Linked DNA regions of Homo sapiens. The protein of the gene in region 1 purifies or fractionates together with the protein of each later gene. This does not show direct contact. Each region holds a gene or a part of one and is shown in the gene's direction. Other genes may lie near its edges. The genes, in order: BTN2A1, DENND6A, POTEF and SLC25A30.

The links.
Region 2: the proteins of BTN2A1 (region 1) and DENND6A purify together in Homo sapiens (affinity purification with mass spectrometry; 3 studies listed by BioGRID and IntAct, with this or other methods). This does not show direct contact.
Region 3: the proteins of BTN2A1 (region 1) and POTEF purify together in Homo sapiens (affinity purification with mass spectrometry; 3 studies listed by BioGRID and IntAct, with this or other methods). This does not show direct contact.
Region 4: the proteins of BTN2A1 (region 1) and SLC25A30 purify together in Homo sapiens (affinity purification with mass spectrometry; 3 studies listed by BioGRID and IntAct, with this or other methods). This does not show direct contact.

Annotation. Positions count from the first base shown.
Region 1 is NC_000006.12:26,452,963-26,460,984, forward strand, and holds the start of BTN2A1 (butyrophilin subfamily 2 member A1 isoform 1 precursor), read left to right. Parts: upstream 1-4,992; 5' UTR 4,993-5,180; intron 5,181-5,644; 5' UTR 5,645-5,674; coding exon 5,675-5,756; intron 5,757-6,518; coding exon 6,519-6,866; intron 6,867-8,022.
Region 2 is NC_000003.12:57,627,061-57,634,090, reverse strand, and holds part of DENND6A (protein DENND6A), read left to right. Parts: intron 1-736; coding exon 737-826; intron 827-3,112; coding exon 3,113-3,166; intron 3,167-3,266; coding exon 3,267-3,376; intron 3,377-3,567; coding exon 3,568-3,670; intron 3,671-5,205; coding exon 5,206-5,280; intron 5,281-5,745; coding exon 5,746-5,877; 3' UTR 5,878-7,030.
Region 3 is NC_000002.12:130,073,010-130,077,227, reverse strand, and holds the end of POTEF (POTE ankyrin domain family member F), read left to right. Parts: intron 1-26; coding exon 27-147; intron 148-1,655; coding exon 1,656-2,984; 3' UTR 2,985-3,693; downstream 3,694-4,218.
Region 4 is NC_000013.11:45,415,361-45,423,249, reverse strand, and holds the start of SLC25A30 (kidney mitochondrial carrier protein 1), read left to right. Parts: upstream 1-4,876; 5' UTR 4,877-4,950; exon of another isoform or gene 4,951-5,088; intron 5,089-7,889. UniProt on the Homo sapiens protein: Antiporter that transports inorganic anions (sulfate, sulfite, thiosulfate and phosphate) and, to a lesser extent, a variety of dicarboxylates (e.g. malonate, malate and citramalate) and, even more so, aspartate.

The DNA of each region.
Region 1 (8,022 bases):
TGTCTTGGTTGAGAGAATAACCTCATAGTACCAACATGACATGTGACTTGGAAAGAGACTAGAGGCCACACTTGATAAATCATGGGGCACAGATATGTTCCCACCCAACAAATGTGATAAGTGATTGTGCAGCCAGAGCCAGCCTTCCTTCAATCAAGGTTTCCAGGCAGAGCAAATACCCTAGAGATTCTCTGTGATATAGGAAATTTGGATCAAGGAAGCTAAAAGAATTACAGGGATGTTTTTAATCCCACTATGGACTCAGTCTCCTGGAAATAGGTCTGTCCACTCCTGGTCATTGGTGGATGTTAAACCCATATTCCTTTCAACTGCTGCCTGCTAGGGAAAACTGCTCCTCATTATCATCACTATTATTGCTCACCACTGTATCCCCTCTACTTGGCAAGTGGTTGTCAAGTTCTAGTTGTTCAATAAATGTGTTAATAATGCTTACTCCTCAGCTTGGCTTTTTCTAGACTGTGGTGTCTACTCAGCACAGTAGTCTGCACACCCACTGTACTCACCACAGTCTCAGTTTACCTCACTGCAGCATTTTCACAAGACCCTTATTGGATGCATTTTCTGTTGTTGCCATCTGAATTACCAGAAATGTATAGACATTTTTTTTTTTTTGAGATTGGATTGTGCCACTGTACTCCCAGGCTGGAGTACAGTGGCACGATCTCAGCTCACTGCAACCTCCACCTCCCAGGTTGAAGTGATTCTCCTGCCTCAGCCTTCCGAGTAGCTGGGACTACAGGTGCGTGCCACCACGCCTGGCTAATTTTTTGTGTTTTCAGTGCAGACGAGGTTTCACCATGTTGTCCAGGATGGTCTCGATCTACTGACCTTGTGATCCACCCACCTCGGCCTCCCAAAGTGCTGGGATTACAGGTATGAGCCACCGCGCCTGGCTTCAGAAATTCATGAACTTAAAGCAACACAAATTTATTATCTCACTGTTCTGTAGGTGAGAAGTCAGAAGTCCCACAGGGATCTCACCAGGCTAGAATCAAGGTGTCTGCAGGCTGGATTCCTTTCTGGAGTCTCTAAGGAAGAATCTGTTTCCTTGCTTATTCAGACTATTGGCAGAATCAGTTCCTTTCATTTATAGGACTGACGTCCCAGTTGTTCCCTGGTTTTTAGCTAAGGGCTGTACCCACTTCTAGAGGCTGCCACACTCTGGCTCCTAGCTCCCTTCCTGTATCTTCAAAGCAGCAACAGCGCATTGAGGCTCATCTCCTAGGTCTTTTTCTCCATTGTGTCTCTCTGATTCTTTTACCTTCTCCTTTTTTTCCTTCCTTTCTTTTTTTTTTTTTTTTCTTCTTTGACAAGGACTCGCTCTGTCACCCAGGCTGAAGTGCAGTGGCGTGATCTCAGCTCACCACATTGTCCCCTGGGCTCAAGCAATCCACCCATCTTAGCTTCTCAAGCAGCTGGGAGCACAGAGCCACATCACCATGCCTGGGTATTTTCTTGTAGAGACAGGGTCTTGCCATGTTGCCCAGGCTGGTCTCAAACTCCTGAGCTCAAGCAATCTGCCCACCTTGGTCTCCCAAAGTGCTGGGATTATAGGCATGAGCCACCACGCTCAGTCTGCCTTTTACTTTTAAAGACTCCTATGATTAAACTGAGATCACCCAGACAATTTAGAATAATCTCTCTATTTTAAGGTCCATAACCTTAATTCTGTGTAAAATTCATTTTACTGTGTTATACATTCTTTTCATAACTTTCATAGTGAATATAGCTCAAAGGGTGGGTGCGGGGAGCACTATTCAGCTCACCACACTGATTTGGGAAGTGATTCCAGGAAACACAAGTGCAGAAACAAATTGAGAAATGAAAAAAAGCCAATTACATGACAAATGGGATAAAGGGTTCACTCATGAGTCAGTTACCATGTGGATAACTTGGCTGAATCCCTTTTAGGACTCTCTAAGAAACCATATGAAATGTGTGATATAGCTCAGAATCTTCCTAAGGACTACAGGGCCTGGGACTTTATCTCCACTTCCCATCCTCCTTTGCTTGAATTGGTTGAAGGTTGGCCTGGGAGTGTTAATTCTAATGCACTTTAAGATTGGGCTATGTAACTGCAGAAAAGCAACTATCACGGGTGTGATAAAGCTCACAGGCAAAGGAGAAGGGAGATACTCACTGGAGGTGGAAAGGTTGTCATCCTTGCAGAAAACTGTGCCTCAGCTATTGGCAAACTGTGATAGGCCAAGAGAATATGGGATGGGGCATCAACAGCGTCTGTTATAAGGGCTCTGCCTCTGAGAATATAGTGAATGCCTTTCAAGGTCTCTCTGCCCTCGCTGTACCACATTTAGCATTAGTGACCTCTTCTCTTCCAATACATGCCCACATCACATGGCCCTGCAGCCTCACCACATGGACTGGGTCTGGGATGGACACCTGACCCAGGCTAGGCCAGAGGACCAAGTGACATGTGGCTAGTTACTCCTGTAGCAGATGTGCATGGGAGCTGTGGGAAGAAATGCTCCATTCATGGTGTGGACTAAACAATGGTGGATTGCAGAGAAGACCAAAGCAGATGAGCAGAGAGAAGGCTACAAGATGGAAAGAGTTTAGGCAAATTTCTCACGTTTGGTTCTTTTAGAAGCCCAGTATCATTTCTTCTTTTTGAAAAAATGTGTTCTTTTGAGGCAAGATAAATGTACTCGTTAATATTGCTTGTAGTCCTAATATTCAGAAGCTTATGCAACTATTATAATATGTTCAGTGATTCTGTGAGTCAGGAATCTAGAATTTGAACAGGGCAGAGTAGGAATGGATTTTCTGTATGTCAACATGTCTAGGCCTCCCCTGGGAGTACTCCATAGCTGGAGATGACACAGCTATATTACCTTCACAGACTGTAGTTTATTGTAAAGCAAAAGGAAATCAATGCTTACCCTGTATCCTGGTTCTTCCAGGGTTGGCAGGTCCATAAAGAACCTTGCCAACGTGACCCTTCCTGTCTCTATCCCTCCCACTACAGAGCATGATTGGGTTAGGTTGTTACTATCTAACCGGGCACACCCCAGTAGAGCCTGATTTCTTTCTAAGCTACCCCATCGTCAACTGATCCTCTTCCTTCTCAGAACACACACGTTTCCCTCTAGCTCAGATCAACTTTGGCAGAGGCTGAAGCCTGGCTTAGCTGGATGCTTCTGGCAAAAGGGCTACTTCAAAGCCCTGGGCCTTATTTCTTCAGGTAAAAAAATATAAAGTCAGATCTCATCCTGGCTGGCCATGCTGTTAGACCCTTTCATCCTTCTCTTCTGCCTCTTCTCAACAGCTGCCCAGTCCTGTTTGGAATTCATATACATACAGTTCTAATACTGATGTATTTACCCTCATAAGCCACTCAACCCAGAATCTTATTTGAATTATAATCCAGAAACATCAGGTGACGTGTGAGACTACTGTATGAGAAAGAGACAGTTTAAGGGTCAGTCCAATGGAAAAAAGAGTTCTCAGAGCTTTCTTTAGCTTATTCTCATCAAAGAGCTTTCTCTGCAGAAGGAACCTACTGGTTCCTCCTTTCCAGTCCTAGAAATCCTGACCTAGAGTGGCTTAATCCTGCTAGCACCTCTCTCTCGCACTCTGGTGCCAAATGACTCCAGGAACTGGGCCATGATGTGGTGGGAATGACCTTACCCTGAGCATGTCACTCATGCATTGAACAACAGCTAAGAGCAGAGCTTAGAGCTTAGAGCTGGGCCCTGTAAGGTGAGAGGAATCACATCCTGCAGAAGTCTGTCCTGAGAAGCAGGTACTCCTGTCACAGCAGAGACACAGTGGATACCTGAGTAACAATAATACAAGACAGGACGTGGGAACAGCAAAAGATTTGGGTGTCAGAAGAGGCCGAGAACACTTCAGGCAGGAACATTCAGAGTTGTTCTTGGAGGAAGTAGGCACGAAGGCTGGGCAGGATTTCACGGGGCAGAGATGGAGCAAGCAATTGAAATGAAAGCCATGGCATGGGAAAAGGAGCACTGGCCACAGGGAGTGCAACGTTGTGATGCAAGGCCACTGTGGAGCCATTGCTAGCGTATTAACTGCAAAGTTTTGAATTGAATCAGAAGGGAATTGGAGGCCTCCAGACTAAGCATTTAGACACTTGAGGGGAATATTGACAACTGGGCCTCGGGAAGATTATTCTGGAAGATATCTTTACAATTACAAGATTGGAGCCTTTGGGAGAGGGATGATGTTTACGGGAGGATGGTATGTGTGCTAGTGTGTGTGTCTGTGTGTGGCTCTTGGACCCAACCTGACCACCTACTATCTAGAAGGTGAAGGACAACTAGAAAGTTTTGCTCAATTCCATCTTCTGCCACCACCAGAATGCCACCTCCCTGAGGGAAAAGGTTTTTGATCCTCAGTCAGGATTCTCAGCACCTCTTATCCGATAGCTTTGGAATGAATGGCAAGGCCTTCATAACAGCCACTGCAACTGCTGTCTCCTTTCCTTTGCTACCCCTCCCGCTCCAGCCATGCCAGCTTCCCCCAAGCCCTCCTGCGCTCCAGGCCCAACCTCCAAAGCCAGCAACTTGAACAGGAGTCCTCTGGCTTTGGAAAGGGGGCGGCTTACGTTTTCCTGCTCATGTTTCCTCCCCAGCAAAATTGCCCTCTACATAGAGAGGCCTCTCCTTGTGGACACCAGCAAAGCCACCGACCTCAGTGACAAACCCCAGGGAATCTCCCCAAGGAATCTCAAAGCGAGAGAGAGAGAGAGAGTCTTGAGAGAGAAAGAGAGAGAGAGAGAGTCTTGCTTTCGAACAAAGAAAAAGGAAATAAAAAGACCCGATAATCTCAAAAGGTTATTTGCTGCTTGAAATTTGTGATTCGGTGTATTCTACCCAGCAACTGCTGAGAAATAAGGTTCGACACCATTGGCTGGTTCACTCACACCCGGCCAATCCTGGGCTCTAAAATACTTAGGGAACTCTTGGGACTGTGGAAGCCCAGGAGACCAGATTTCGTTTCCTGCATCTCCAAACATGGCGACCTAGGAGAAGGGGAAGAACAATTTTTTCTCCTCTTTTGGGAAGGTTTGTGTCTAGTAGTGCCTGTGCCCCTGGGCAGATTGGAGAGAAGAGGGACGACTGGAGAATCGTCGAGAACCAGCGGAGAAAAGAAAAAGCAACGTTTAATTCTAGAAGGTAGGAAACGGAGGGGAGGCGCTACAGCTCCGGGGTGGGCACAGTAGGTGGGGGAAGCGGGGTCTGCTGTGGACACGAGACGGGGTCCTGGGACAGGGAAAGCCCACCGGTGGGGAGGCGCGGCCTCGCCTGTCTTTGCCTCAGGCTGCCCGGCCTGGGTCGCGGGGAGGAGGAAGTGAAGGGAGGAGGGTGTGGTAGAATCCAGCGACAACTGAAGAAACTGCATTCTGGCCAGAGAAGTGAGCCGAGGAGGGCGGAAAAAGGCCCCCTTGATCTTGGCATTGATGGCTTACTTCATGGAATGTTTAAGGAATCCCTCTCTCGGGACATACCTGAGCCTTCGGATGCAGGGGACTCCCTGAAGTTGGGGCACTGATGAGACCTACTTGAGTGACGGGAGAGGTTGGGCCCGACCAGCACTGAGGTGCCAAGACTCCTAGGCTGATTCTCCTCTGTAACCCTAGGCCTCCTGTCCCTGCCTGCTCTGGGTGCTCATGGAATCAGCTGCTGCCCTGCACTTCTCCCGGCCAGCCTCCCTCCTCCTCCTCCTCCTCAGCCTGTGTGCACTGGTCTCAGGTAGGGATGTGTGCCACTTGCTGCTGTCACCTATCAGAAAGGAACATCAACCCTGTAGTCTGCAAAGGGAAAGAAAGAAGGACTGTGGAGTTGTTGACTTACCCTTTCATTCTGAACATGTTCATTGAATTTATACCAGCACTGTCCAAAAGGAATACAGTGAGGCACAAAGGCCGAGTGCATGTACAATTGCAAATTTTCAAAAAAAATTAAATTTTACTTTTTATTTTAAAAAGTAAAAAGAAACATGAAATAAATTTGTATACTATATTTTGTTTCGCCCCAAATAATCAAATACGAATATTTAAATACTTAGTTAATATACCATATTACCAATGAGATAGTCAACATTTTGAAATTTTAAATCTTCATAATCCTGTGTGTATTTTACACTTACAGCTCATTTCAGTTGGAACTAGCTAGTGGATATGTGTCCTATTGCACGGCTCAAGTTTACAGTACACTCAGGCACAGCACTAGATTGGGAAATCGAGGAAAATCCCCTCAAGGGCACAGGGTGGACAGAGGGTGCTCAGGGCAGGTTCCTCAGGGTTTCCTTCATGAAGCAGAAGCACACTTTATAGTTACTGCTCCCAGGGGTGCTGTCGACTAGCCACAGCTACTGGTCCCCAGATTTCTCAGCCCAAAGAGACCCTATGGCCATGGAAAAAATAAGTTTGTCCCTAGAATATCTGCTTCCTTTCTTGCCTTAGAGATGTGATGGCTGGTGTCTTTGTCTGACTCTACCCCTTTGTTGAACAGCCCAGTTTATTGTCGTGGGGCCCACTGATCCCATCTTGGCCACGGTTGGAGAAAACACTACGTTACGCTGCCATCTGTCACCCGAGAAAAATGCTGAGGACATGGAGGTGCGGTGGTTCCGGTCTCAGTTCTCCCCCGCAGTGTTTGTGTATAAAGGTGGCAGAGAGAGAACAGAGGAGCAGATGGAGGAGTACCGAGGAAGAACCACCTTTGTGAGCAAAGACATCAGCAGGGGCAGCGTGGCCCTGGTCATACACAACATCACAGCCCAGGAAAACGGCACCTACCGCTGTTACTTCCAAGAAGGCAGGTCCTACGATGAGGCCATCCTGCACCTCGTAGTGGCAGGTGCGTCGCTTCATTTTGCTTTGTTACTTTGGCACAGTGTGACTTTGGGGAAAGTTTCTCTCCTAACCTCAGGCCCATTGCAGACCAGCAAATTTTTGTCTGGACTCCCTTTTCCACTCTCCCTGTGGAAACGGAATTCCAGGGAAAAATCCTTCCTCCTGCACAAGGGACACATGAGTGGGTTTGCCCTGCTAAGCTAAGGGCTTCACTTCTTGAGAAGCACATGCAGAATTCAGCTGAGGCCGTGAGCAGGGGAAAATGGTCAGTCTCGGAAGAGAAGTCTTATACCTGCCTTAGGATTGAACTGTGCACTTCTTTTGGGTTTTTTTTTTCTTTTTGAGACAGAGTCTTGCTCTGTTGTACCCTCGCTGGCACGATCTTGTCTCACTGCAACCTCTGCCTCCCAGGTTGCACTTCTGAGAGTGAGAGGAGACACTGTCAATAATTGTTCCAAGACAACTGGAATAAACTGATTACCCAGAGAACTACAACATATCAAATCTTATTTCTTGATAAATATTAATCTTTACTTCATCTTTCCCAAAATGCTGATTGCAGAGAGAGTGACTTATTGTAAATAGATGGTTTTATTAAACCAAGACGAAATACAGAAGCAAAATTATATATAGTTCCTGCTAACTCCATAGAGAAAGACTACGAATTTTGCTGGGAGGTAATAGGGAAGCCTTCCACATAAAAATGCATTTAAACTGGGATTTCTAGGAATTTGTTAAAATGACATTAAGTGATTACTTCAGTTTTGGGGTTAGTGTATTATGCTTTAAAAGATATATTTGGGCTGGGCGTGGTGGCTCATACCTGTAATACGAGCACTTTGGGAGGCAGAGGCAGGTGGATTACTTGAGGCCAGGAGTTCGAGACCAGCCTGGCCAGCATGGTGCAACCCCATCTCTACTAAAAATACAGAAACATTAGCCAGGCTTTGTGGAGTGTGCCTGTAATCTGAGCTTCTTGGGAGGCTGAGGCACAAGAATTGCTTGAACCCAGGAGGCAGAGGTTGCAGGGAGCCGAGATCTTACCACATCACTCCAGCCTGGGCGACAGAGCAAGACTCTGTATCAAAAATTAAACAACAACAAAAAAGATATATTTGAGGACTGAAAAAGCCTTTAAGGTGCAGGATAATCTGTGGTGG
Region 2 (7,030 bases), on another chromosome or scaffold:
GGGCATGAATTTGGGGCTGTAGCTACACATGAGTGTCAGTCTTTCTAGAAACTTGGAAATTATAGTGAAAAAGCCATAGATTCTACCATGATAGCATCTAACAGTAGGGGACTGTTACCATTTTTTTTAATGTAAATAGTATAGTATAGCAAATATAAAATAAAGATTGTCTTTATAGTGAACTCACTTTTTTTTTTTTGAGATGGAGTTTCGCTCTTGTTGCCCAGGCTGGAGTGCAATAGCACAATCTCGGCTCACTGCAGCCTCCACCTCCCCAGGTTCAAGCAATTCTTCTGTCTCAGCCTTCCAAGTAGCTGGGATTACAGGTGCCCGCCACCACACCCAGCTAATTTTTGTATTTTTTAGTAGAGACGGGGTTTCACCATGATGGCCAGGCTGGTCCTGAGCCCCTGACCTCAGGTAATCCACCCACCTCACCTTCCCAAAGTGTTGGGATTACAGACGTGAGCCACGGTGCCCAGCCGTGAACTCACATTTTCACAGTATGGGATGAACAGTATTCCCTAAGCTAAGAACTCTTATGTTTTGCTCCGGTAAAGATTATTTTCACAGGATATTGCACAATGAACTTCACATTAAATTACTTCAAGGTGAAGTTCTAGTTTTTTAAATATCAAGTATAAATGTATATTTACATAGCAATTGAATCTGATAGTTATCCATTGTTTTATATTCCAACACTAGAATACAGATTCTCATTATTTCCTCTTTTAAGGGTGTACAACAGAAACGTCCTTCTGAGGCTCAAAGTGTTATTCTTCGACGCTATTTTTTGGAACTGACACAAAGTTTCATCATTCCATTAGTAAGTTAATAAATAAATTTTTGCATAATTTAATGATTTGGTGAAGGGTATATAAATGTTTTTCCCGCCCTCCAAAACCATATCTTAAGTTGTGTGTTTTGCCAGCCTGGTATATTTAGTGATTAAAAATAAACCCCTTTGCAAGAGACCTGGATTATCTGTTCTAGTGTTAACTGTTCAACTTTGGTAAGTCACTCCCTCTCTCTGACCCTCAATTTTCTCACCTGTGAAATATGGCTGATTCCACTTTCCTAAGTACCTTTTCAAGACTGTTGTGAATCTTAAATGATATACTTTATATGAAATGTTATGTAGTTACTACATTTTTCACCTTAAAAGAAGATTATAGTAGAGCTTCTTTCTGATACTTATCTTGAATACAATTTGATATAATGTCTATGAGGCTGTAGCTCTATGATAACAGGGACTATATCTGTCTTGCTTGTTATTAATTCGTCAGACTGGCATATGGTAGCACTCAAATATTTATGGAATAAATGACTAGACAATGTGGTTATTGTAAGAAATTCAGAAGGATGTCATATTAAAGTATAGGGAGTACCATGATGTGGCCCTGCTCTGGAAACTGCATCATAGAGAAACTTTTTGCAGTTATTAATATAAAGTAATATATCTATGAACATTATATAGGGCATCCTGGAGATCTTTGCTGTTATATTTTAGAAAGAAATATTATTTCTTGGTCTTTGGGTGTCAAGTTATTTATTCCATTAAATCTATTTGTTTGAATAAATAAACTTTACTGTAGTGCTTATGAGCATGGACTAGGCTGGGCACAGTGGCTCAGGCCTGCCACTTTGGGAGGCGAAGGTAAGAGGATTGCTTAAGGCCAGGACTTTGAGACTACAGTAGGCTGTGATTGCACGACTGCACTCCATCCTGGGCAACAGCAAGACTCTCTTAAAAAAAAAAAGAGCATGGACTGGGCGTGGTGGCTCACGTCTGTAATCCCAGCACTTTTGGAGACTGAGGCGGGCAGATCACGAGGTCAGGAGATCGAGACCATCCTGGCTAACACGGTGAAACCCCGTCTCGTCTCTACTAAAAATACAAAAAATTGGCCAGGCATGGTGGCACGCACCTGTAGTCCCAGCTGCTCTAGAGGCTGAGGCAGGAGAATCACTTGAACCCGGGAGGCGGAGGTTGCAGTGAGCTGAGATCGCGCCACTGCACTCAGCCTGGGCGAAAGAGTGAGACTCCGTCTCAAAAAAAAAAAAAAAAAGGCCGGGCGCGGTGGCTCACGCCTGTAATCCCAGCACTTTGGGAGGCCGAGGCGGGCGGATCACGAGGTCAGGAGATCAAGACCATCCTGGCTAACACGGTGAAACCCCGTCTCTACTAAAAATACAAAAAATTAGCCGGGCGTGGTGGTGGGCGCCTGTAATCCCAGCTACTCGGGAGGCTGAGGCAGGAGAATGGCATGAACCCAAGAGGCAGAGCTTGCAGTGAGCCGGGATAGCGCCACTGCAGTCCAGCTTGGGCGAAAGAGTGAGACTCCGTCTCAAAAAAAAAAAAAAAAAAAAAAAAGAGAGCAGAGACCAAAGTCAAGTAGACCTCATTTCAAGTCTAAATTGTATTACCTTGGTCAGGTTATTTAGCCTTTTGAAGAAGCCTCAGTTTCCTAATAATACCTACCACATAGGATCATTCCAAGGATTACAAGAGATCATGCATGTAAAATGTTGAGTGCATTATCTGGCCTATAGTTGCTCAGTAAGGTTAACTATTATCGTTAAAAAATGGACCGCGTTGTTGGGCGCGGTAGTTCACGCCTGTAATCCCAGCACTTTGGGAGGCTGAGGCAGGTGGATCATGAGGTCAGGAGTTCGAGACCAGCCTGACCAACATGGTAAAACCCCATCTCTACTAAAAATACAAAATTAGCCAGGCGTGGTGGCGCACGCCTGTAATCCCAGCTGCTTGGGAGACTGAGGCGGGAGAATCGCTTGAACCCGGGGGGCAGAGGTTGTAGTGAGCCGAGATCATGCCATTGCACTCCAGCCTGCGCAACAGAACAAGGCTCTGTCTCAAAAAAGAAAAAATGTAGTCCCCTTGGTTTATCTAAGATTTAGTTGAATTTTTATTTGAAATCTGACTTCCCAAGTCAGTCTAAATTTAGCTATATCTCTTGTGGGGAGTGATGGAGTTGTTGCTGTCCATTGAAAGGGCATATGATTAAAAACTTAAAAGACCCATTCCTTTTAAGTAGGTCTGTTTAAATATTTTTGAAGACACTCCTTTTATTAACTTTTTTCTTGGTTTTAGGAAAGATATGTGGCAAGCTTGATGCCTTTGCAGAAAAGTATTTCCCCATGGAAGGTATGAATATATTCAAATCTATTTGGGTCCTCTAACTGTAATTAACTTCTGTGAACATATCCACTCCTAATTTCTAAATATTATATGTCCTGTTTTCTAGAGTCCACCTCAATTAAGACAGTTTCTTCCAGAAGAATTTATGAAAACACTTGAGAAAACAGGACCTCAGCTAACCTCTAGAATAAAAGGCGATTGGATTGGACTTTACCGGTTAGTCTTTTTTCCCTGTTTTACACCCATGTGTCGTGCTTTATTTAAAAGCAAAACAAAAAGCTAAACTTAAGCTTATTCTTTTTAAAAAATTCTACTAAAGTTTGACATGGTTCTCTGACTAGGAAAGGTATTGAGGAAAGGAAATAAGTTATAATCAAACTTTACTTTTTTAAAATGTATTTTTATAGGCATTTCCTAAAGTCTCCAAATTTTGATGGCTGGTTTAAGACCCGGAGGAAGGAAATGACCCAAAAATTGGAGGCACTCCATCTAGAAGCTCTTTGTGAAGAGGTTCGAAAACTGTGTGTTTGTGTAATGATTAACAACTGTTGAAAATAAAGATAATTATGCTTAGAAGTTGAAGATTGTACCCTTTATCCACTCTTTATAAATAGTAATGATGACTAACTTTTCTAGATCATGTGCTATGTGCCAAGGACATTATAGGGGCTTTATATAGATAATCTCTTTTAATCTTTACAATGATTCTTTGAGGTAGGTGTGTTATGAACTGCATCATGGGAAACTTTTGGCTTAGAAGTTAAATGACTTGCCTCAGATCACATCCCTGCTAAGTAGTGGAGCCAACAGTGTGCTGGAGTCCACTTGCATTGGCTCACAAGAGCCAAATGTGCACATCTCTTCTCAGCTCTGTATTCAGTAACCTCAGGTTGGCAGCTTGAAATAGCCTACAGTGGGAGTACTACACCACAGAAATTGGCAAATGCTACAAACCAGAGACCTCTTTTGGAGAACCACTTGTTAAATATTTACCAGCACATTACTGGGTAGAGTAAGGATTCTAATCCAAGAAGCCTAACTCCACATCTTTTTCTGTATGATGTATTTACCTTTTTTAGTTAGTATTAACACTTTTAGAAATGTGGACTGGCCGGGTGCAGTGGCTCACGCCTGTAATCCCAGCACTTTGGGAGGCTGAGGTGGGTGGATCACGAGGTCAGGAGATGGAGACCATCCTGGCTAACACGGTGAAACCCCATCTCTACTGAAAATACAAAAAAAAAAAAAAAAATTAGCCGGGCGTGGTGGCAGGCGCCTGTAGTCCCAGCTACTCGGGAGGCTGAGGCAGGAGAATGGCGTGAACCCGGGAGGCGGAGCTTGCAGTGAGCTGAGATCGCGCCACTGTGCTCCAGCCTGGGCGACAGAGCGAGACTCCGTCTCAAAAAAAAAAAAAAAAAAAAAAGCGGACTGATTTTTTTTTTATGTTCTGTATTACCAGCCTATTTTAAATTAAACTACTTGTGAAAATAAAAGGAATAGTCTCACTTTCATTTATATTTAGCTTTAAATGTGAGGTGTGCTAACCTCAGTGTTAACTTTCTACTCATAAACTCCCAGTCACTGTGGCTTTGAGAAAAGGAATATGATGAATGCACCTGCAACATAAGCCCAGGAAGAGCATATCCGAAAACACGAAGTGTACATCCAGTAGTAAATTCATGTTCAGTTCTCTTGATTTGTTAACTAATGTTCCTTATAAATTAGTCACTACTTAGTGGAAGTGGGGGTTACTGTTACAGTTTGAGCTGCAATTTTGTTTTTCTTGCTTGATCTAAAAAAGCCACCTCAGTACATTTTGTTTTACTTCCAAATATGAGACAATTATTCTGGCTAATGCAGAAAATTATCTAACAGTTATTAGAATATTATGAGAATTATTCTTGCACTATAATGCTATATCTGGGTTAAATACTTTGTTCTCCTTTTCCTTCTTGTCTTTCCTTCACAGTAGCCTTACCTATTGAAATAGAGAGGTTTGAATATTATTTTGAGAACTTACTGATTTGGGACTTTATTTATTCTAGGACTTACTTCTCTGGATCCAGAAACACACAGAAGTAGAAACAGTAGACCTTGTCTTGAAGCTGAAAAATAAGCTGGTATGTAGCCAAAACAGCCAAAGATTAAATTGACTTTTCTTTGAAGACATTGTCCTCTCATGTGAGCTGACAACCCATGATAGTTCGCAGAAGTAACTTTTTAAATGAGAGGGCTTGAAATTGGTCAATTGATGGTAGATACTGCTGAAAATACTTGGTCACTGAAACAGACCATAATGATGCCATATTATTCTAACGTTATGTATATAGAATCTAATAAGCTCTATAAAAACATTGTCACTTATATTTCTAGGTATTATTATGAATTTACATAGAAGCCTTTTATTGAGCTCAATAACGAATTGTTTAAATAGAATGCTCCTTGCTTTTTTAGTTTCTGTAATTTCTGGTCTAAGACTGAAAGTATCTAATTGTTAGACCTTTAAAATGGTTTATTTAGAGAATGTAATGTATTAATACAGATTCTGAGGATAATTTAAATGTTATGAAATGTTCCTTATGTAGTTGCAGGCTGATCGAGAGCACTTACCTGTGAAACCTGACACTATGGAAAAGTTACGGACACACATAGATGCCATTATCTTAGCATTGCCAGAGGACTTGCAAGGCATACTGCTCAAAACGGGCATGACATGATATTTGCCAAGATTTTCCAGCCAAAAAGGATTATGCATCATGAAGCATACTGACATTTCAACCAGACGCACAAAGGAGATCTCTCAGTGGCAGCGGAGTGGAAAATTGCCATGAATGCTAGTTACAGGGTAGAAAGACTGTATTGTATAAACAGACCTTTTTAGTGCATTACTTTTTAAAGTGGATATCTGTGGTGGTTCCACTTTAATACTGAAACACCGAAAGGCATTTCTATATTTTTAATCATGTTCTAAAGTGCTCTTATGAGAGACTTGTGGGCCATCAGTATTAGTGATTTCATACTGCAGTGCTGGCATTGCAGATATTTTTTTAAATTGGTGCTGCTTTGCCCAATCATGTTAAAACTCAGGGGGATATAAAAATAACATTCACACTGGCTATCTTCTTAAGAACAGAAAGACTGAACTGTCCTATGGTTAGAAGGAATTGATGCTTATGTAGTGCCTTCTGTTGTCCTACATGTTTCACAGTTCAGCTGCTAGTCTTGAAGCTTTTCCTTAGCTTCATTATGATACGTAATTTTATAAGGTATTCTGTTGAGTGATCATTGTTTAAAAAAAAAGTTTCTTGCTACCCATTGTGTTTATTAATAGACATGATGGGTTTTTTTCAGTTGTCATATAGATTTTCATTATTTTCCCTTCCATTTTCAAAATTTAATGTTACCAGTTTCTCCAAAGACAAGAAGGCATCTAGTATTAATGATGGAAGAGTTTATTTTCTCTTACCCTTTACTAATTTAAACATTAGGCTGGGTGTGGTGGCTCACGCCTGTAATCCTAGCACTTTGGGAGGCCAAGGTGGACAGGTCACTTAAGGTCGAGAGTCCAAGACCAGCCTGGCCAACATGGTGAAACCCCGTCTCTAGTAAAAATACAAAAATTAGCCAGGCATGGTGGCACGCGCCTGTAATCCCAGCTACTTGGGAGGCTGAGATGTGAGAATCACTTGAACCTGGGAGGCGGAGGTTGCAGTGAGCTGAGATTACACCCCTGGACTCCAGCTTGGGTGACACAGTGAGACTGTGTCTCAACAAAAATAAAAAATTAAATAAATACTAATTTAAATATTATTAAATGTTTAAACTAATGAACTTGGCTGCTTTTCAAAGACATTTTAATTATAAATCTCA
Region 3 (4,218 bases), on another chromosome or scaffold:
TTCATGAAAATTAAAATTTCTTCTAGTGACGAACAAAATGATACTCAGAAGCAATTTTGTGAAGAACAGAACACTGGAATATTACACGATGAGATTCTGATTCATGAAGAAAAGCAGATAGAAGTGGTTGAAAAAATGAATTCTGAGGTATTTTCTTTAGTTATTTTCAAATGTTTTTATATGTGTGTATATTTTAAAGAACTGTATTTTGGAAATATAAAGGATTTTTAAGTCATATATATGTGTGTATATATTCTATATATCCTTTGTCATATATCTATATACGTACGTATAGGATAAAGCCATGTTCTTAATTCACCTTCATTTGCCTGCAACAGTTGAGTAGTGACCTGCACAATGGCCTCAATCCAAAGGAGAAGTATTTGATATTTTTCATAAGAATTGATGATCTTTCCACATCAGAAATAAGTTTTGCTACTGAAAACAGATTTTCTCGTTTTTGGACATTAGTTTTTTAAAAAATGTTAATAGAGAAGTCAATTGATTATTTTTACTGATAAGAAAGTAGGAAATGTATAGCTGGGTCAGAGGCCACATTGTGGATACCATTATCCTTACTTTTGCAGAGAGGAACAGTTTGCTCCAAGTAGTTTCTCATTTCAATGTAAAGAGGTTTGAAAAGAATGACATGCCATGATACACATTTAGTAATAATTTATTGATAAGTATTTTCTTTCTGGAGAAATAGTTCAGTATATTTCCCCTATTTCACCATTACTACTGTTTCAAACATTATAAAGAGGAAATAAAAGTTACCGCAATGGCAAATAATCTCATGATTTCTAAGAAAATCTCTATAAGTTGTATCTTATTTACCATTCATATTTTGAAACAAAAGGTTTCTTTTGTATTTATATATTTACACCACAGAAGTAAGTGTGGTTTTGTGGAGGATCACTAGAAGTAGCATCAGCAGACCTGGGGAAAATCCTGCATCTGTGTATATTTTTTGACCTCTCCTTTTAAGAATCGCGATCTTAAATGAGTTCAGTATTATATGTAGAAGAGCAATGCCTAGATACAGATGTGTACAGTGTAGAAGGGTACAGTGCTTATTTGACAGTTATAAATAAATGTAATTCTTATAACTGAGTATAGAAATATTAGAAATGTAGAATATCGGTAAAACGTTCTTAAGTAAAAGAAACTTAAAGAACTTTGAGAAATTGCTTCTGTCCAAATATATGCATAGCTAAGGCTCTTAGGATGGTGTGGTTGATAGGTTAGATATCAGAGTGTAAACCTAATCTTAAAAATGTAGTCAAATTATTAATCTTATATTTTATGCCTCTGGGTTTTTTGTAACTCAGAAAAAAGGCTTTTTTTAATTCTGGGATTCTTAAAAATCCTCTAGTGATTTATTTTTCATCGTCTTTAAATAAATATTTAAACTTTTAGGAATTTAGGAGCAGATTCCTAAAAGTTTAAATATTTATTTAAAGACGATGAAAAATAAATCACTGGAGGAATTTACACTCTTATTAGGTTTGAAGTTTTGTCCAATTTTTTTCCAGTTAAATATCCACTATGGGGATTCTTTCATTATACAAATACATGTTATTTTTGAATTTCAGAAGAAATCATGATATGTCAATCTATTGAGTGCTAACTAAAAGTTCTCTTTGTTTACTTAGCTTTCTCTTAGTTGTAAGAAAGAAAAAGACATCTTGCATGAAAATAGTACGTTGCGGGAAGAAATTGCCATGCTAAGACTGGAGCTAGACACAATGAAACATCAGAGCCAGCTAAGAGAAAAGAAATATTTGGAGGATATTGAAAGTGTGAAAAAAAGGAATGATAATCTTTTAAAGGCTCTACAATTGAATGAGCTCACCATGGATGATGATACCGCTGTGCTCGTCATTGACAACGGCTCTGGCATGTGCAAGGCCGGCTTTGCGGGCGACGATGCCCCCCGGGCTGTCTTCCCTTCCATCGTGGGGCGCCCCAGGCAGCAGGGCATGATGGGGGGCATGCATCAGAAAGAGTCCTATGTGGGCAAGGAGGCCCAGAGCAAAAGAGGCATCCTGACCCTGAAGTACCCCATGGAACACGGCATCATCACCAACTGGGATGACATGGAGAAGATCTGGCACCACACCTTCTACAACGAGCTGCGTGTGGCTCCCGAGGAGCACCCCGTCCTGCTGACCGAGGCCACCCTGAACCCTAAGGCCAACCGCGAGAAGATGACCCAGATCATGTTTGAGACCTTCAACACCCCAGCCATGTACGTGGCCATCCAGGCTGTGCTGTCCCTGTACACCTCTGGCCGTACTACTGGCATCGTGATGGACTCTGGTGACGGGGTCACCCACACTGTGCCCATCTATGAGGGGAATGCCCTCCCCCATGCCACCCTGCGCCTAGACCTGGCTGGGCGGGAACTGCCTGACTACCTCATGAAGATCCTCACCGAGCATGGCTATAGGTTCACCACCATGGCCGAGCGGGAAATCGTGCGTGACATCAAAGAGAAGCTGTGCTATGTTGCCCTGGACTTCGAGCAGGAGATGGCCACGGTGGCCTCCAGCTCCTCCCTAGAGAAGAGCTACGAGCTGCCCGATGGCCAGGTCATCACCATCGGCAACGAGCGGTTCCGCTGCCCCGAGGCGCTCTTCCAGCCTTGCTTCCTGGGCATGGAATCCTGTGGCATCCATGAAACTACCTTCAACTCCATCATGAAGTCTGATGTGGACATCCGCAAAGACCTGTACACCAACACAGTGCTGTCTGGCGGCACCACCATGTACCCTGGCATGGCCCACAGAATGCAGAAGGAGATCGCTGCCCTGGCGCCTAGCATGATGAAGATCAGGATCATTGCTCCTCCCAAGCGCAAGTACTCCGTGTGGGTCGGTGGCTCCATCCTGGCCTCGCTGTCCACCTTCCAGCAGATGTGGATCAGCAAGCAGGAGTATGATGAGTCAGGCCCCTCCATTGTCCACCGCAAATGCTTGTAGGTGGACTCTGACTTAGTTGCGTTACACCCTTTCTTGACAAAACCAAACTTCTCAGAAAACAACATGAGATTGGCATGGCTTTATTTGTTTTCTTGTTTCATTTTTTGTTTTGTTTTTTATTGGCTTGACTCAGGATTTAAAAACCGGAATGGTGAAGGTGACAGCAGTCGGTTGGAGGAAGCTTCCTCCAAAGTTCTACAATGTGGCCAAGGACTTTGATTGTACCTTGTTCTTCTTTTCAATAGTCATTCCAAATATTGTGAGACGCATTGTTTCAGGAAGCCCCTTGCCCTGCTAAAAGCCACCCCACTTCTCTCTAAGGAGAATGGCCCAGTCCTCTCCCTAGTTCACACAGGGGAGGTGATAGCATTGCTTTTGTGCAAATTACATAATGCAAAATTTTTTGAATCTTCGCCTTAATACTTTTTAATTTTGTTTTATTTTGAATGATCAGCCTTCGTGGCCCCCCTCTTTTGTACCCCAACTTGGGGTGTATGAAGGCTTTTGGTCTCCCTGAGAGTGGCTGGAGGCAGCCAGGGCTTACCTGTACTCTGACTTGAGGAGAGTTGGATAAAAGTGCACACCTTAAAACAAATTGAGGAAGCACAGTATTTCAGTACAGTGGACAGCTTAGCATGTTGACAACTGAGAATAAAATGCTCAGTTCTGAACTGGACAATGTAAGACACAACGAGGAAACACTGGAAATGGAAATTCAATTACGTCATTGTAGACTGGCTGCTGCTCTACATGATTGTGACCAAAGTCAGATAGCTGAAAGAGACTTCTTTCCAGAGAACAAGACATGAACAGGTTTATTTACAGAAGACAATGAATTCTCATTTATCTCACCTAAAAGAGAACAGATTCTTTCTCAACAAGTCTAATGAAGACAGTAAAATCAACAGGCTAAAAATTAAGCTCCACGAAACAAGATAAAACTCTGAGAGAAAAGACGGGGCAGGCCGCCATCTTTCCCGTTCAGGCAACGTAGTCATTCCAGCCTGCGGGCTTTGGAGAGTACAAACCGACGAGGGACAGAAGAGATCCCACAGCACAGCATAGCTGCTTTACCAAATCATGGCCAGACTGCTTCTGTAAGCAGGCCCCTGATCCTGTTCCACCTCACTGGACAGGACCTCCCAACTGGGGCCTCCAGCTACCCCCACCAGCATTCCTTGGCCAATGGAAATGTGAAATGTTCCTGGGACAGAGCTCCCGGAGAGGGGCAGGC
Region 4 (7,889 bases), on another chromosome or scaffold:
ACTGTGGTAATATCAATGGGAAGGGACAGACAATTTGACAAAGCCTCCATCCTGACCTCTGTCTTCCTGCCAACTCTCAAATTATAGAGACTCTCCAAATGTGCTTATATTTATTGGGGACCCACAGTGCCAGGTGCTATGCTGAGCACTAAGAATACAGTAGTGAGCAAGACTGGGTCCCTACCCCAACGAGCTTACTGTTTCATGGGAAGACTGTCGAGAAAACTGCTCATTCTTTTGAAGTGCGGTAACTGTTCTCATAGCAGCATGGATGCACAAAGAGGGCAGGCACCCATTTCACCCAGTTTTTAGTGATTAGGAGAGACTTCCTGGAGGACATGGTGTCCAAACTGAGGCCTGATGGATGAGAAGGGCTTAGCAAGAGAAATAACTCAGCAGGTGCAATGCAGTGTGTGCCAAGTTGCAGAGGTAAAAGGGAGTATCCCTGTGTTTGGGGAGCTGTGAGTATTTTATACAGCCATTCAGTGACTTACACAAAAGATGCATTCTCAACAAAGCACCTGTAACCAAGAAAAACAAATGCCCAAAGCAACATTCCTATAAAACAGGATTTCTAAAACTTCAGTACTATTGCCACCTTCCTGGGCATTGTTGAACGTTTAGCAGCAACCTAGGTCCCTACCAACTTGCCAGTAGCAAGCATCTAGTTGAGGCAACCGAAAAACTCCAGACATTGTGAATTTCTCCTGGAGGGCAAAATCTGATTCAGATTGAGAACCGCTGCAATAAAATATAATGATAAAGAATTTTATGGGCTCATTCCCAGTACACCAGCTAGGAACACTGGCCTATCCAGGTGTTCTTCTTAGGAGTAGCAATGGCTCATTGCTTCTGCATTTTGCCAAGGAGAGGAGGTGACCAGATGTCTCAGTCAGATACAACCTCCTCCTTTCGCCAACCACCAAATGTTACCCCTAAAAGGTCTGACTAAGCCCTTTCATTCTGCAAGCACCAACCATCCAGAAAAACCTGTGAGACTCATTCTTGACAAGACGCAGGTCCATATTATCTGCATCATTCCTGTAGTTTAATGTAATTAAACAAACATTTATCAAATTGTAGTTGATTCCAAAGCATTTGTTATTTATTGCCACTATATAGTGCACACACAATTGCCAAGATGATGAAAACCATGATGTGGGTAAAAAATGGTTCCTGCTGCCCAGCTCCTCATAGAGATTGGCATCATCCACCTAAGGGAGTGTAGTGAGGGCTTTTGGCTGTGTGGATGTTACTGTTCTAACAGTTTGCTAATAAAAGGCCTAAATGGCAATAAAAGCCCAGCTACTTGAGAAGTGCCTATATGGCCAGACTTTAGAATGTAGGATTGAGGGGCAAGTGCATGGGTGAGGAGGATAGGGAACTGGATTCTTATGGCTGGAGGGCTCTAAGGACCACGTGGTCAGGGGCCTTAATCTTGAGGACACTGGGGAGCCAATGAAGAATTTTAAGCTGGTGAGTGCCATGGCCAGATGAATTCAAAGATATTTCTACAGCACTTACATTTTACAAAGTATGTTTTTGCACACGTCGCCTCATTTAACATTCTGTAGGGAGGGTATTGTTTCCATTTTGCAACTGAGGACTTTAATTAACTCAAGGCCAGAGAGCTAATAAAGCTGTGGCCAGGATTGAGTAGAACCTAGGTCTTCATTTCCATATTGCTACCTGGGTGTGTTAACTGTAGTCAGATAAAAAACATGCACAAAGAGCCAAATAGGGGGAAAGTTGAAGGCAAAGAATAGATGAAAAAGAAGTTGCTTCCAACAGGGACTGGCACTGAATAGTTCGTAGATATATTTCTGGACTTACCACTTTTTTTTAATTCTTTTTTTTTTTTTTTTTTTTTGGAGATGGAGTCTTGCTCTGTTGCCCAGGCTGGAGTGCAGTAGCACGATCTCAACTCACTGCAACCTCTGCTTCCCAGGTTCCAGCAATTCTCCTGCCTTAGCCTCCCAAGCAGCTGGAACTATAGGCAGGCAGCACCATGCCCGGCTAATTTTTGTGTTTTTAGTGGAGATGGAGTTTCGCCATGTTGGCCAGGCTAGTCTTGTACTCCTGACCTCAGGTGATCCACCTGCTTCGGCCTCCCAAAGTATTGGGATTATAGACGTGAGCCACCACGCCTGGCCTTTTTTTGTTATTCTTGTTTCTAAACTGGTTATGCTGCTGCAACCAAGTTACTATTCCCTAGAGAAATAGTTTCCAATCCCTGGGCCAAGACCCTTGGAGGAACCCAAGGTTACTGCAGGGGCCCCACAAATTCCATATGCATTTTCATAATGGACACTGAAAATACTACCATCTATTTTATAGGGACTCAAAATTTTTAAAAAATTCAGTTTTCTTTCAAAAAGATCTTTGGCCAGGCATGGTGGCTCATGCCTGTACTCCCAGCACTTTGGGAGGCCGAGGCAGGAGGATTGCTTGAGTATAGGAGTTCGAGGCTGCAGTGAGCTGTGACTGGGCCACTGCACTCCAGCCTGGGTGACAGAGCGAGACCCTGTCTTGAAAAACAAAACAAAACAAAAGCACAAAAAAACCCACAAAGGGATCTTCATACTTGAAGGCTGGCCATTCCTGTGTATTTCTAAGTATTATCTGAGTATTAGCATGGGCTGGTGGGGCTTAGGGTAATGGTAGAGTTTGGGTGTCCAAAAGCTCTACAGGAAAGGGAGGAATCCAGTGCTTTGTATGTAGTACCACACAGTCATGAGTCTGGAAAGGACTTGGTGAGGTGAGAGAGAGGTAGAAAGGGTCATGTACTTATTTCCCTGCCCTAGAAAGGCAAGCATTCCAATGACTTTCCCCCACAGGCTGGGGATTGTATTTGTTTTTATGGCCAGAATTCAGGGGATACTTCAAAGGGGTCCAAATTTTATTGATTTCAAAACATTGTGTGGCCAAAAATCCAGGTACTCACCTAGAGTCCAAGTTGGAGCACAGAAAAGAGATTGTTTAAGCTCAACCTGGGGCCTGAGCTGGAGACACAAGAGAAGGAAATGAGAGAGAGATGGCCCTGGGCCCTGGTTCTGTAACAGGGCAGTTATCTCATGAAACCTCTGTTCTGTCATCTGTAAAATGGAAATAACATTTCTTTGTCTTGAATGAACCAAGGGATGTAAAGATTCCTGGAGTAGCACTTTGCATCAACAGATGCAAGTTTTATACATATGCATTTTCCTTCCTCCCTTCCTTCCTCCCTCTTTCTCCTTTCCCCTTTCCTTTCTTCCCCTTCCCCTTCCCTTCGCCTCCCCTCCCTTTCCTTTCCTTTTCTTTCTCTCGCGCTGTCACCCAGGCTAGAGTGCAGCAGCTAGAGTGCAGCAGCTAGAGTGCAGCGGCGTGATCTCGGCTCACCTCAACCTCCACCTCCCAGCTTCAACTGATTTTCCTGCCTCAGCCTCCCGAGTAGCTGGGATTACAGGTGTCCATCACCACGTCCGGCTAATTTTTGTACTTTTAGTAGAGATGGGTTTTCTCCATATTGGTCAGGCTGGTCTCGAACTCCCGACCTCAGGTGATCTGCCCGTCTCGGCCTCCCAAAATGCTGGGATTACAGGCATAAGCCACTGAGCCCGGCCCCAGTTATATGTTTAAATCATGAGTTCACAGCCGGGTGCCGTGGCTCACACCTGTAATGGCAGCACTTTGGGAGGCCGAGGCAGGCGGATCACCTGAGGTCGGGAGTTCGAGACCAGCCTCACCAATATGGAGAAACCCCATCTCTACTAAAAATACAACAATTAGCCGGACGTGGTGATGGGCACCTGTAATCCCAGCTACTCGGGAGGCTGAGGCAGCAGAATCACTTGAACCTGGGAGGCGGAGGTTGCAGTGAGCTGAGATGGTGCCATTGCACTCCAGCCTGGGCAACAAGAGTGAGGCTCTGTCTAAAAACAAAACAAAACAAAAATATACCTGGGTATGCTTGAACACAAACACTGCCATACCGTTAAAAATGTTATATATTAATATATAAATAAATATTTACATATATGTATATTAGATATATATGTAAAGATTTCTACTCATAGTACGGTTCTTTTAATTTTTTGTTCTGTTTGGACATTTTCTTTCTTTTTTTTTTTTTTTTTTTTTAAGAGGGAGTATCACTTTGTCGCCCAGGCTGGAGTGCAGTGGCGCGATCTTGGCTCACTGCAACCTCCGCCTCCCGGGTTCAAGCGATTCTCCTGTTTCAGCCTCCCGAGTGGCTGGGATTACAGGCACCCGCCACCAGGTCTGGCTTTTTTTTTTTTTTTTTTTTTTTTTTTTTTTTTTTTTTTTTTTTGAGACGAAGTCTCGCTTTGTTGCCCAGGCTGGAGTGCAGTGGTACGCTCTCTGCTCACTGCAATCTCCGCCTCCCAGGTTCAAGCGATTCTTCTGCCTCAGCCACCCAAGTAGCTGGGATTATAGCGCCCGCCGCTATGCCCGGCTAATCTGTATATTTTCAAGCTAAAAGCTGGGGTATAAAAAAATAAGGGCAAGTTTACTTCCATCCAACTGTGAAGGTTCACGGGGGCACCGTGAGAAGGTTGCCCCCTGCGAAGGTTGCTTTTCCACGGTTCTCGATGCGTTCCCCAAATTTCTCTTCCACCTCCCAGTCGATATCGGAGGCCACATCAGGTGTCACCGAGTCCCGGGCAGCTCCCTCAGGCAGCGGCAGGGGAAGATCCTGAGGGGCACTTGGGACGGGCCCCGCCCCTCCGTGTCCCCATCTGGGGCTGTCAGGGGTGTGGCTAGTGCTGGCAGAAACCAATGGGAGCTGAGGAGGTCGCGTGTTTGCGCGGACGGGGCGGGGCGGCGCGGGGCTGCGTGCAGGCTCGTGGGTCTGCCCCGCCCGCGACGGCATTTTTTCCTTTTCTCCAGCGGCCTCAGGTTCTTGTTACAACTGAGTCCGGGTTGGAGGAGGTGTGGGGCCGCTGCCGCCAGGTAAGTCCTGGCCCGTGCCTCCTCCTGCCGGCCCCGCTTTCTCTGCGGCTCCTGGAACCCGGGCCTGGGGTAAGGTTGGGCTGCGATTTCCGAGGAGCCTCCTTTGCAACCGGGCGTGCTCGGGGCTGCCTGTGCTCTCCACTTCGCAGGCCGGGCCGGGCTCGGCGGGGCGCGAGGTTCCGGGGACTGGGGACAGGGCTCTGCTTCTCGGGCTGCTGCCTCCTTGGGTCGGGCCGGTGCCGCGGGGCCCCCATCGCTGTTGGCGTGGGGTGATTCCTGTTCCAGGGTCATTCAGATCCGAGTGCGAAGCCCGTCCTGGCATCTCCGCGTCTGCTAACGAGCCCCGGGCTTGCAACCCTGCTTGTGCGTCCCTCCCACTCGTGCGTTCATTCAAACGGCAGCCTGAGCGCCCGCGAGCTTCGCACTGTGGGAGAGGGCACACCACATTCGGAATCGCTCGTGGCACACAGGCTGGGAGGAACTTGCCTGGAAAGTTAATGTACCTCTGGGTTTTGAAGTCTTTCTAGGTGCACTTTCATGTAAAGCAGTTGCAGTGATTAGCATTTTTGTTCTGCGCAAGAGTAGCAAACAATGTTGGCACTGCCCTGCGGATTCGGCTTGCGGTGCTACTTGGGTAGTGAGAAAGTTGAAAGGCATGAATCTTGCTTTTGGCTTTGCCGTTGCGAAGCTTTGTGACCGCGGGCTCAGTTAATTAACGTGAAACGAGATGATAATTTCGAAGATTTCTTTTAAACCCGGCTTTTTGTAAGTCTGTGATGAGCTTAGTTTTCCTTCTGCACCTTTAAAAAGAATAGGAAATAGGAAAAGTTCATGAAAGGGCATTATTGAAAGGGCAGTCGGTCCAGCAAGGAACAATAAATGTATGAGAGCACATTAAAGGCTGTGCAATTACAGTTTTAAGACTTAAGACTAAAAAGGGAACAGGAAGTAAAACTGAAAGAACTTACCAAGAATTAAATAAGAGAAACGGCTGGGAGCGGTGGCTCAGGCCTGTAATCCCAGCACTTTGGGAGGCCGAGGCGGGCGGATCACCTGAGGTCAGGAGTTCGAGACCAGCCTGGCCAACATGGAGAAACTCCGTCTCTACTAAAAATACAAAATTAGCCGGGCGTGGTGACGGATGTCTAATTCTAGCTACTCGGGAGGTTGAGACAGGAGAATCGCTTGAATCCAGGAGACGGAGGTTGCAGTGAGCCGAGATCATGCTATTGTACTCCAGCCTGGGCAATAAGAACAAAACTCCGCCTCTAAATAAATAAATAAGAGAAACTTGGAAAGCGTTCAAAAGTACGAACAGCTAGTATTATATTTAATTACCTCCCTTTACAGCTGTACACATGAGGTCAGGTGGGTGAAAATAAATACTAAGCAACCATGTAAGAGAAAATGTAGACAGGATGTGTAACTTAGCATATATCCTAAGTGTAGGGAGAATCCTTTGAAATTCTTAATTTGTATAGACAATTTCATTCAGAAAACTTGTTTTTAACCTTTATTTATTATTTGGGACAGGGTCTTGCTCTGTCACCCAGGCTGCTAGAGTGCAGTGTCATGGTCTTAGCTCACTGCAGCCTTGAAGTCCTGGGCTTATGTGCCCCTTCCACCTCAGCCTGCGGAGTAGCTGGGACTAGAGTCGCGTACCACCATACCTAGATAATGTTTTGGATTTTTTTAGTATAGGTGGTCGTCTCATTCTGTTGCCCAGGCTGGTCTTGAACCCCTGGCCTCAAGCTATTCTCCAGCCTCAGCCTCCCAAGTAGCTGGGATTACAGGTATGTGTGACTAGCCCAGCTAACATTTTTGTTGTTGTTTTTTTACTTTGTATTTTTCACTTTTTTTTGTATTTATTTATATATTTATTTATTTATTTGAGATGGAGTTTTGCTTTTGTTGCCCAGGCCGGGGTGCAGTGGTGCGGTCTCAGCTTACTGCAACCTCCGCTTCCCAGGTTCAGGCAGTTCTCTTGCCTCAGCCTCCCGAATAGCTAGAATTACAGGCGCCCACCACTATGCCTGGCTAATTTTTGTATTTTTAATAGAGACAGGATTTCACCGTGTTGGCCAGGCTGGTCTCGAACTCCTGACGTCAGGTGATCCACCCGCCTCGGCCTCCCAAAGTGCTAGGATTACAGGCATGAGCCACCGTGCCCGGCCTGTTTTGTTTTTAACTTTAAAAAATTTGGACCGGGCGCCGTGGTTCATGCCTATAATCCCAGCACTTTGGGAGTCGGAGGCAGGCAGATCACAAGGTCAGGAGTTCGAGACCAGCCTAACCAACATGGTGAAACCCCATCTCTACCAAAAATACAAAAATTAGCTGGACGTGGTGGCACGTGCCTGTAATCCCAGTTACTCAGGAGGATGAGGCAGGAGAATTGCTTGAACCTGGGAGGCAGAGGTTGCAGTGAGCTGAGATAGCACCACCGCACTCCAGCCTGGGTGAAAGAGCGAGACTCAGTCTCAAAAAAAAAAAAAAAAAAAAATTATTCAGCCAGGCACCAACAGCTTTCTTTCTTTTTTTTTTTTTTGTGATGGAGTCTCGCTCTGTCACCCAGGCCACAGTGCAGTGGCGCCATCTTGGCTCACTGCAACCTCTGCCTCCCGGGTTCAAAGCTATTCTCCTGCCTCAGCGTCCCGAGTAACTGGGATTACAGGCATCTGCCACCATGCCCAGCTAATTTTTGTATTTTTAGTAGAGACCGGGTTTCACCATGTTGGCCTGGCTGGTCTCGAACTCCTGACCTCAAGTGATCCACCCTCCTCCACCTTCCAAAGTGTTGGGATTACAGGCTTGAGCCACCACACCCGGCCAACAGCTAACATTTTTAAAAATAAAATTTTTTATTTCCTCTGCTGGAAAATTCTATATTTATTCTGAATGTATAGAATTCCCTGCCCTGCCCCCCACCAATATTTTTT